Regions from separate parts of the Homo sapiens genome. Here region 2 is linked to region 1. Evidence: fine-mapped expression QTL. A gene starts in region 1. The other region holds a variant in brackets. All regions are shown on one strand. Distances are between the middles of the regions.

Region 1 (5,378 bases):
ATTACTCTCTTGGATGGTTCCTAGTAGATACAAAACGGTTTTTTCTCCAATGGGAAAATAGAGCACAGGGAGCCACTCAGTCTGCTCCCAACACCCTTTCCAGCTGCTCACCAGAGCTACCTTGGCAAGTACTCTAGGAGTGTGGGAAAATGAAAACAAACTCACACACCTTTTTAACATACACAACCAGTTTATTCTACCCAGCCAAGGCATATTCTTCTTATGTGGAACTTCAACCTATATCTGCCTCCCACCAGCTGGACAGGCACCTGCACCTTCTCCTAAGTCCCAACACTAACAATGCCACAGGAAATCAGACCCTATCAGTGCCCCTCAAAGCTCAAGTCTGTCAGCCCAGGACCATACAACTAATACCCCTACTTATAGGGCTAGGAATGCCCACTGCTACAGGAACCAGAATAGCCAGTTTAACTACTTCATTATCCTACTACCATACACTCTCAAAGGATTTCTCAGACAGTTTGCAATAAATAAATCTATCCTTACTCTACAATCCCAAATAGACTATTTGGCAACAGTGACTCTCCAAAACCGCTAAGGTCTAGACCTCCTCACTGCTGAGAAAGGAGGACTTTGCACCTTCTTAGGGGAGGAGTGTTGTTTTTAAACTAACCAGTCAGGGATAGTACAGGATGCTGCCTGGCATTTACAGGAAAAGGCTTCTGAAACCAGACAACACCTTTCAAATTCTTATACCAACCTCTGGAGTTGGGTGACTTGGCTTCTCCCCTTTCTAGGTCCCGTGACAGCCATCTTGCTATTACTCACCTTCAGTCCCTGTATTTTTAACCTCCTCCTCAAATTTGTTTCCTCCAGGATCAAGGCCATCAAGCTACAGATGGTCTTACAAATGGAACCCCAAATGAGCTTAACTCACAACTTCTACCGAGGACTGCTAGACTGACCCACTGGCCCTTTGACTGGCCTAGAGAGTTCCCCTCTGGAGGACACTACAACGGCAGGGCCCCTTCTTTGCCCCTATCCAGCAGGAAGTAGCTAGAGTGGTCATCACCCAGTTCCCAGTAGCAGGTGGGGTGTCCTGTTATGAGGGAGGATTGAGAGGTGAGGCCAGCTGGACTTCCTAGGTCGAGTGGGGACTTGGGGAACTTTCCTGTCTTACAAGAGAATTGTAAAATGCACCAATCAGCGCTCTGTAAAACGCACAATCAGCAGCATTCTAAAAGTAGCCAATCACGGGGAGGATTGAAAAAAGGGCACTCTGATAGGACAGAAATGGAACATGGGAGAGGACAATAAGGGAATAAAAGCTGGCCACCCCAGCCAGTAGCGGCAACCTGCTGGGGTCCCCTTCCATGCTGTGGAAGCTTTGTGCTTTCGCTGTTCACGATAAACCTTGCTATCACTCACTCTTTGGGTCTGCGCCATCTTTACGAGTGTAACACTCACTGCGAAGGTCCACAGCTCCATTCTTGAAGTCAGCAAGACCACGAACCCACCGACAGGAACCAACTCTGGACACAACTATAGCCTCCAACTCCTGGGCTCAGGCAATCCTTCTGCCTTAGCCTCCCAAGTAGCTGGGGCTACATGCATGCACTAATGTCTAGCTAATTTTATTTTTATTTTTGGAGAGACAGGGTCTTGCTCTTTCACCCAGGCTGGTCTTGAACTCTCAGCCTCAAGTGATCCTCCCACCTTAGCTTCCCAAAGCACAGAGATTACATGCCTTTCCCTCAAGCTACTTGCCATCTCATCTTCCTTACTATATTAAAAGCAAAGGCTCCGGACATGGACTACTGGGGTTGGATTTCTGGCTCTGCTCTTTAACAGCTATGTGATTTGGACAGCTGGTTTCTTTCTGTGCCTCAGTTTCCTCATATGTAAAAGGAGGATATGAACAATGGCTTCCATGCCTGGCCTTCTTTTTCACTTTATAAATAAGTATACTTCTCTCCTTTCTGAATGTGGGAATAATACATTGTTTATAAATTTAGAAGTTGGAAACTACAAAAAAAAAAAACACAAAAAAAAGAGAGAGAGAAAGAAAATCATTACATTATTCCTAATCTCATTTGATGTACTTTGGCCTATTTCTTTCAGGCACTTTTCTGCATGTACCTTTTTTCCATAGCTGAAACCATATTGTATAAATAGCTTCAGATTCTGGTGGGGTGGTTTTTTCATGTAGTAGAACAGGTGTTTTCCCAAGTCCCTGAGCTCTCACTCTGCACACCCCATCTACCATTTCCCAGTGATGTGGCTTTGGGCGGTTGCTGCAGTTTGCTATTACACAAGTAAGCATGCAACCCACACCTGGGGAGAGAACTTTCTTCTCTCCTGAATCTCGGCTCGCATCTTTAAGCGCCACCCCATTAGACAGGAGGCAGCAGAAGCACAAAGCTCCATGAGTAACTCCTCTCCCTTTTGGAAAAGTTCACAGAAAGCAATTTTGGAGACCTTGGCAACGTTTAATTATGAACATTTAGAAAGACAACGGATCTCCTCATATGCACTGGGACTTCAGGGCCAGGTCTTCAGTTTCATGATTCGCATGATTCGCAGGGCTCCGGCACAGGAGCAATCTGAAAGCTGGGCTGCAAGCCCAGCGCGGTCTGCCTCCTGAGGCCCCGACCCACTGCGGCGGCGGCGCTGGGCCCCCTTACCTGGGCAGCGCCAGGGCCTCCTCCGTGCGGCCGAGGACGCCGAACACCGCTGGCAGCGCCAGCACCCCGTCAAGGTCGAAGACGGCCGCGCGCAGCGTCATGGCGGCGGGTCTGCAGCCTAGCACCCGGACACGCAGCTAACCTGGGAGATGCGCGAAGGCCAGGGCGCATGACCCGCCCAGCTTGGCCCGGCTCTGCCCCGCCCCTGCCCTGGCCCCGCCTCCTCCCCACACCCCCTTAACGGGACTCCGCCCTCTGCCCGGGTTAAGGCTGGACTCTGGCCGGGAAAGAGGCAGGGGGAGGGGCACAGGAAAGGGAGTCAGAGGGAGAGGAAGAGGAGGCCGGGAAGGCGGGGACCCCAGGCTAGAATCTCGCCTCTGGATGTAACGCTTTCTACTGTCTCAAAGGAAAGTCCAAAGTCTCTTATGCCCCCTCCCCACGCCCCTGCAGTAGCTGCTTGAAGAGGCAAACCCAGGCCCGGGCCTTCCTGGACGGACTGACAGCTCCCTGCGAACTTGCTGGACTTGGAATGCCTGGGAAAGAGGCCACAGACTCTGTGTGTGTGTGTGTGTGTGTGTGTGTGTGTGTGTGTGTGTGTGTGTGTGTGTGTCAGCACATCCAGTGACTTCTACATTCAGAACATAAGACCGTGTTGGGGGGCGGGGGAGGGGCATATCCAGTGACTTTTCTAGATTCAGAACGAAGGATCACAGATCCCTCACTATCCTGACCACTCCTCTAGGCACGCTCTTCTTTGCCAAGGCAAATGTGTTTCTAGAATAAAATATGATGTTCCAGCTATCGTGTGCCAGCCCAGAATACTTCGATTTCAATCTCTTGTGGAATGAAGCTTAGAAGAACTAAATGTAGGCTATTATTTTCCTTTTGTACATGCTACTTGTAATAATTCTGTCTTAAAATGTGCGAGGTTTGTTTTTAATCACCGATTTCCACACTATTGGCTCGTTTATGTTCCTAGAAAAACTAAAACTTTGGCTGGGAGTTCTTGAGCTGTTGTAGTGCAGCTCCATGAATTAAAAACCGTGTCTTTGGTGGAGACCAAACAGAGTGAGTGAGGTCTCCAACAGTGGAGAATTTACTCTTGAATGTGTCTCTGTGGATTTATCCAAGATACCCTCCACCACGGAGCTTCAAGAACCTTGTGAGGGGTTGTCAGATACCTCACTGTAACTGGGAGGTCTACAACAGTCTCTGGATCTAGCAATCAACAACAGGATTGACCAGAGCCGTGGGTTTCCTCTGGGCTGTTTGCCCTTAGCAAGCTATGCTGTTGCTTCCTTCTCTAGCTTGGTAACCTCTTCCAGGCTCCTGCCTGGAGCAGTTATTAGTGTTTTCTGAGATTCTTGCCAAAGAAGCAGAGAGTGGCCAACACTGCCAAATGTTACAGGAAGAACTGAAAAAAAAGCTGTCCAATTTTGGACTTGGATGACACCGGATGTTTCAGAACACTTTTTGTGGGCCCTTTATGGTAGAAACTGGATTACTCTGGATTTGAAGACTGAAAGATAGGCAGAGAAGGGAGTACAGCAAGCTAGTTTCTCATGAAGTTAGTTGATCTCAAAGGTATAATTGAATTTTAAAAAATAGAAAGAAAATTGCAGCCTGACCTATATAGTATGAAACCTGTTAAATCTCCAGATTGGGCATGGTGGCACACACCTGTAATCCCAGCACTTTGGGGCTGAGGTGGGAGAATTGCTTGAGGCCAGGAGTTTGAGACAAGCCTGGGCAACAAAGCAAGACATTCTCTCTATAAAAAATAAAAATAAAATATTAGCTAGGCATGGTGGTGCATGCCAGTAGTCTCTGCTATTCAGGAGGCTGAGGTGGGACGATCACTTTAGCCCAGGAAGTGGAGGCTGCAGTGAGCCATGATTGTGCCACTGCACTCCATCCAGCCTGGGTGACACAGCAAGACTCTACCTCCAAAAAAAAAAAAGAAAGAAATTAAATCTCCAACTTAGAGTTTCCTTTGGGCTCCAGACTTGCCAACTTCTTACTCAACATCTTACTCAACGTCAATATCCAACTTCTTACTGAACATCTTCTCTTGAGTGTCTAACAGGCATCTCAAATTTATCATGGCTAAAACAGAACTCTCTCTGCATTTCTACTTCCCACGCCTGTTCCTCCTAGTGTGTTCCCTATCTTACAAACTGGCATCCCCATTGACTCAGTGGCTCAGTCCCGAGACCACGGAGTTGCTTCCAGATCCTTGGCTCCCAGCCAAACCATATGTTCGTGTTTCTAGCGGTGGCCTGCTGATTGAGGCAGAGATAGCAGCTTCTAGTTCTATGGTGGTGTTTTCTGGGAGTCCTTCCTAAAGGCTCAGTCTGGAGCTCACTCCTCCATTCCGTTCAAAGATTGTGTAGGCTTGCAGTCTCTCATCTTAAATCCCTTTCTTCTGTTTCTATTTAAAATAACTACAGTGATTTCTGTTGCCTGCATCTGAATTCTGCATCTAGCACAGTATTGCTTATGAATACGTAAGTATATTTATACAAGCAGTAAAGTGTAGAGGAACGACATACCTACAGAACTAGATTTCATAAAGCCCCCTTTTGAGAAGAAAAATTTAAAAACATAGAAATATGAGTTTTACTTTCCTCTTTGGTTAAGAGAAAGCCATGAAGCTATCACATGGACTTTTATTTATTCAGGAGCAGTTAACTTGTAAATAGCTCTGGTGTGGAATATTTTTATAATGCCTTG
Region 2 (5,378 bases), 57 kb before region 1:
AACAAATGGAAGAACATTCCATGCTCACGGGTAGGAAGAATCAATATCGTGAAAATGGCCATACTGCCCAAGGTAATTTACAGATTCAATGCCATCCCCATCAAGCTACCAATGATTTTCTTCACAGAATTGGAAAAAACTACTTTAAAGTTCATATGGAACCAAAAAAGAGCCCGCATCGCCAAGTCAATCCTAAGCCAAAAGAACAAAGCTGGGGGCATCACACTACCTGACTTCAAACTATACTACAAGGCTACAGTAACCAAAACAGCATGGTACTGGTACCAAAACAGAGATATAGATCAATGGAACAGAACAGAGCCCTCAGAAATAACGCCGCATATCTACAACTATCTGATCTTTGACAAACCTGAGAAAAACAAGCAATGGGGAAAGGATTCCCTATTTAATAAATGGTGCTGGGAAAACTGGCTAGCCATATGTAGAAAGCTGAAACTGGATCCCTTCCTTACACCTTATACAAAAATCAATTCAAGATGGATTAAAGACTTAAACGTTAGACCTAAAACCATAAAAACCCTAGAAGTAAACCTAGGCATTACCATTCAGGACATAGGCATGGGCAAGGACTTCATGTCTAAAACACCAAAAGCAATGGCAACAAAAGCCAAAATTGACAAATGGAATCTAATTAAACTAAAGAGCTTCTACACAGCAAAAGAAACTACCATCAGAGTGAACATGCAACCCACAAAATGCGAGAAAATTTTTGCAACCTACTCATCTGACAAAGGGCTAATATCCAGAATCTACAATGAACTCCTATAAATTTACAAGAAAAAACAAACAACCCCATCAAAAAGTGGGTGAAGGACATGAACAGACACTTCTCAAAAGAAGACATTTATGCAGCCAAAAAACACATGAAAAAAATGCTCACCATCACTGGCCATCAGAGAAATGCAAATCAAAACCACAATGATATACCATCTCACACCAGTTAGAATGGCAATCATTAAAAAGTCAGGAAACAACAGGTGCTGGAGAGGATGTGGAGAAATAGGAACACTTTTACACTGTTGGTGGGACTGTAAACTAGTTCAACCATTGTGGAAGTCAATGTGGCGATTCCTCAGGGATCTAGAACTAGAAATACCATTTGACCCAGCCATCCCATTACTGGGTATATACCCAAAGGACTATAAATCATGCTGCTATAAAGACACATGCACACGTATGTTTATTGCGGCATTATTCACAATAGCAAAGACTTGGAACCAACCCAAATGTCCAACAATGATAGACTGGATTAAGAAAATGTGGCACACAGACACCATGGAATACTATGCAGCCATCAAAAATGATAAGTTCATGTCCTTTGTAGGGACATGGATGAAATTGGAAATCATTATTCTCAGTAAACTATCGCAAGAACAAAAAACCAAACACCGCATATTCTCACTCATAGGTGGGAATTGAACAATGAGAACACATGGACACAGGAAGGGGAACATCACACTCTGGGGACTATTGTGGGTGGGGGGAGAGGGGAGGAATAGCATTGGGAGATATACCTAATGCTAGATGACGAGTTAGTGGGTGCAGCACACCAGCATGGCACATGTATACATACATATGTAACTAACCTGCACATTGTGCACATGTACCCTAAAACTTAAAGTATAATAATAATAAATAAATTTAAAAAAAGGAAAGATATTCAACATCACTAATCATTAGGGAAATTCAAATAAAACCATCATGGGACATCACATGGCCATTCTATATATTAAAAAAACAGAAAATGGAAACCAGCTATGGAAAACCATCTGGTGGTTCTTCAAAATATTAAACATAGAAATTACAATATAATCTAGCCATTCCATTTTTTGATATATACCCAAAAGGACTGAATTCAGAGCCCTAAAGAGATATGTGTACACTGATGCTCAGAGCATTATTCATAATAGCCAAAATATGGAAGCCATCCAAGTGCCCATTGCTGAATGAGTAGGTAAACAAAACGTGGTCTATACATACAATGGAATATTATTTGGCCTTAAAAAGAAAGAAAATTCCAACACATGCGACAACATGAATGAACCTCGAGGACATTAGGCTATTTATTTATTTATAGAGATGGAATTTCCCTCTTGTCGCCCAGGCTGGAGTGCAATGGCATGATCTTGGTTCACTGCAACCTCCGCCTCTGGGTTCAAGCGATTCTTCTGCCTCAGCCTCCCAAGTAGCAGAGATTACAGGTGCCCACCACCACACCTAGCTAATTTTGTATTTGTAGTAGAGATGGGGTTTTGCCATATTAGCTGGGCTGGTCTTGAACCCCTGACCTCAGGTGATCCGCCCGCCTCGGCCTCCCAAATTGCTGGGATTACAGATGTGAGCCACCATGCCCGATCAAATTTTAATTATTTTAACTTGAAACTAATGCATTTGTCCATTCATCCATTTGTGCATATACTCTCCAATTTATTCAGCAAACGTCTAATGAGCATTTTACATATGCCAGGCCAGTGCTGGGTTGGGTTTCAGGACGAATTACTTAGACAGGCAGCCCCCGATCTCAGGGCCCTCACAGTCTAACAGGGAGACAGACAGTTACACATTTGGGTGCAGGAGTTGACACTTTACAATTGCTCAGGCAAGAAAGTATTTTATCATTTGTGGCCAGATGGAGTCCTTTGAACAGTGAGGCATAATATTTGTCACCCAATTCCTGTTGGAAAAAAACCCTTTGAGCCTCTGACCTAGATATTTTAACCATTGTTTGCTTTTAATTTGTATTGATGGTAATGTGGCTGTGAACGACACGGAAACTGGTGGACAGTCATGTCAAGGTCTAAAACCGTGGGTTCCCTATACCCCAAGACAGACAGAAATAGCTTTTTGTCCTGTCTAGTCTAATAGACTCACTTTTTAGAAGACGGGTCTCCTGGAAACCTTGGATGTTGCTAATTGACAGCCACTAAGTGGTCCTTCCTTGACAGAATATGTGAGTGATCTCAGCCTCCTCCCGGGAGCAGCACAACCCACTGCTGGAGGGTGTGAGAGAGAATATGAAGACTGCTGGACCTCTTTTTTAAGGGCCGATTTCTTTTAGCAGAGGGGAATATACTTGTAATCTATTCCCTTTGTAATCATGAAATAAAAATAACATATTTTTACTATTCAGCCACAAAAAAAGAATGAAATCTTGTCTCTCGCAGCAACGCGGATGGAAATGGAGAGCATTCTGTTAAGTGAAATAAGCCAG[A/G]AACAGAAAGTGAAACACCACATGTTCTCACTCACATGCAGAAGCTAAAAAAAAATTCATTTCCTAGAAGTAAAAAGTAGAATGGAGGATAGGAGGCTGGGAAGGGTTGGGGAAGAGGTGGGGGATAGGGAGGGATTTAAGGAATGTCAAATTCCAGCTAGATGGGAGGAGTAAGTTCTAGCGTTGTATAGCACTGAGCAATGACTACAGTCAACAATGATACATTGTTTTAAATAGCCAGAAGGAGGTTATTAAATGTCCTCAATACAAAAACGATAAATGTTTGAGATGACATGTGTAATTACCCTGATCTGATTGCTACACATTATATGTATCAAAACATCACTATGTACCCCATGAATATGTACTAGTATGTTAATTACAAATTAAATTCAATCCCAAAATATAGCATTTTATAATTAAATCATTTTGAACACACTCCTTGCCATTTGTACTTAAAATGGCATCTGAAAATCTTCCCTGATTGTTCCAGGGAATGCCCTGATACCACCACTGCAACAGTTGACGTGTGGCCCAAAGGTCCTCAAAGCAGACCAGGAAACATAGCCCTGGACATTCCACTATCTTCTTGAAAAACCTAAAGACCTCTTCCAGTCCACTGTCCTTTATGGCCCTTGATACGGTTTGGATTTCTGTCCCCACCCAAATCTCACGTCAAATTGTAATCCACGATGTTGGAAGTGGGGCCTGGTGGGCAGTGACTGGATCTTGGGGGCGGATTTCCCCCTTGCTGTTCTCGTGATGGTGAGTTCCCATGAGATCTGGTTGTTTATAAAAGTGTGTAGCACCTCCCCCTTCTCTTTCTCTCTCCCTCCTGTTCTAGACACGTAGGATGTGCCTGCTTCCCCTTCACCGTCTGCCATGATTGTAAGTTTTCTGGAGCCTCCCCAGCCATGCTTTCTGTAAAGCCTGCAGAACCGTGAGCCAATTAAACCTCTTTTCTTTATAAAGTAGCCAGTCTCCAGTAGTTCGTTATGGCAATGGGAGAACAGACCGATACAGCCCTCAATCTTGTATAACCAGTTATATTTTCTGGCAATGCTATGGAATGGAGTTATTCAACTCTTACTTGCCAAAGGAGCAGAATTTCTGAGGCCTTTTTGATGGCTGATGGAGATGACTGGATAGAATATTAAAAGCGAGACTTTCGGGAAGACAGGTTTGCTGTTTGTGCTCCTTCCAGTAAAGGACGCTTTTAGGTTTTGATTATTTCCTTTCCCCCAACTGCTCCCTTACAAATGAGCTTGAATACACCCAGTTAGGAAAATAATGTGATCTGGTGTAAGCCTTTCCCCCAGTCCTCATGATTGCCTTTAAATTAGCCCTTTAATTCTCAGATGCAAAAGATTGAGATGGTGGTGGCATGGCTGGAAATGGAAAGCCCTTAGAGGTCTTGTCCTAAGACAAACTGGAAATCTTATAGCTGATACTTCCATAGCACTTCCTCCATGCCAAGCACTGTTCTAGAACTCTGTGCATATTATTAACATACTTGATACAACCACCCATGAGTTAGGTCCTACTAACGTCCCCTTTTTTATAGATGAGGGAACTGGGGCACAGATATCCTTTTTCAAGGTCACAAGGCGAGTATGCAGCTGACCGGAGGCCTAACCTAGGTGGTCTGGCTCCAGATTTAGAAAGGAGAACTTCTCTTTTTTTTTTTTTTTTTGAGTCGGAGTCTCAATCTGTTGCCCAGGCTGGAGTGCAGTGGCGCGACGAGAACATTTTTTTGTAGAAAAAGCTCAGCCTTAGGAGCCAGAAAGCCTGCTTCTGAATCCAGGCTCTGCCCCCATCTAGCCAAGCAGTCCTGGGCAAATTATCTGAACCTCAGTTTCCCTCTCGGTTAAATGGGAAGGACTCTCTGGAAGGATCAGAGGTGGTGCATGGAAGACTCCAGGTGCACTAGGGCAGTGAAGAAATGCCAGCAGCCTCCATTTCAAACCTCTCCTGGCTTTCTCCCTATACACAGATACTCAGGCTCTTGTGACCTGGCCAACTCATGCCCGTCATCATGCCAAACTCAGCTTGGAGGGACCACTTTCTCTCGCAAGCAGCGAGGCCATTGTGCGTGCATCTGTGAGCCCGATAACCATGCAAGGGGGGCAGGCAGAAAGGGCTCGGA

Evidence for each region. PIP is the estimated chance that this variant, and not a neighbour inherited with it, causes the effect. A credible set is the group of variants that fine-mapping cannot tell apart.
Region 2: its variant is the best candidate, but not a certain one, in a credible set for the expression of EPHX2 in whole blood (TOPMed, PIP 0.74).

Annotation. Positions count from the first base shown.
Region 1 is chr8:27,488,577-27,493,954 of GRCh38, reverse strand. EPHX2 (epoxide hydrolase 2) reads right to left here and starts at 2,812. Exons shown (of 19, transcript NM_001979.6): 1 at 2,646-2,812. The coding sequence starts at 2,746. RefSeq lists a silencer at 2,729-3,008 and a cis regulatory region at 4,755-5,069.
Region 2 is chr8:27,545,676-27,551,053 of GRCh38, reverse strand. It overlaps a transcript of EPHX2 not described here. Among named protein-coding and RNA genes, the nearest start is that of EPHX2, 57 kb to the right of the region's middle. The variant A/G (reference allele first, on the strand shown) is at 3,233.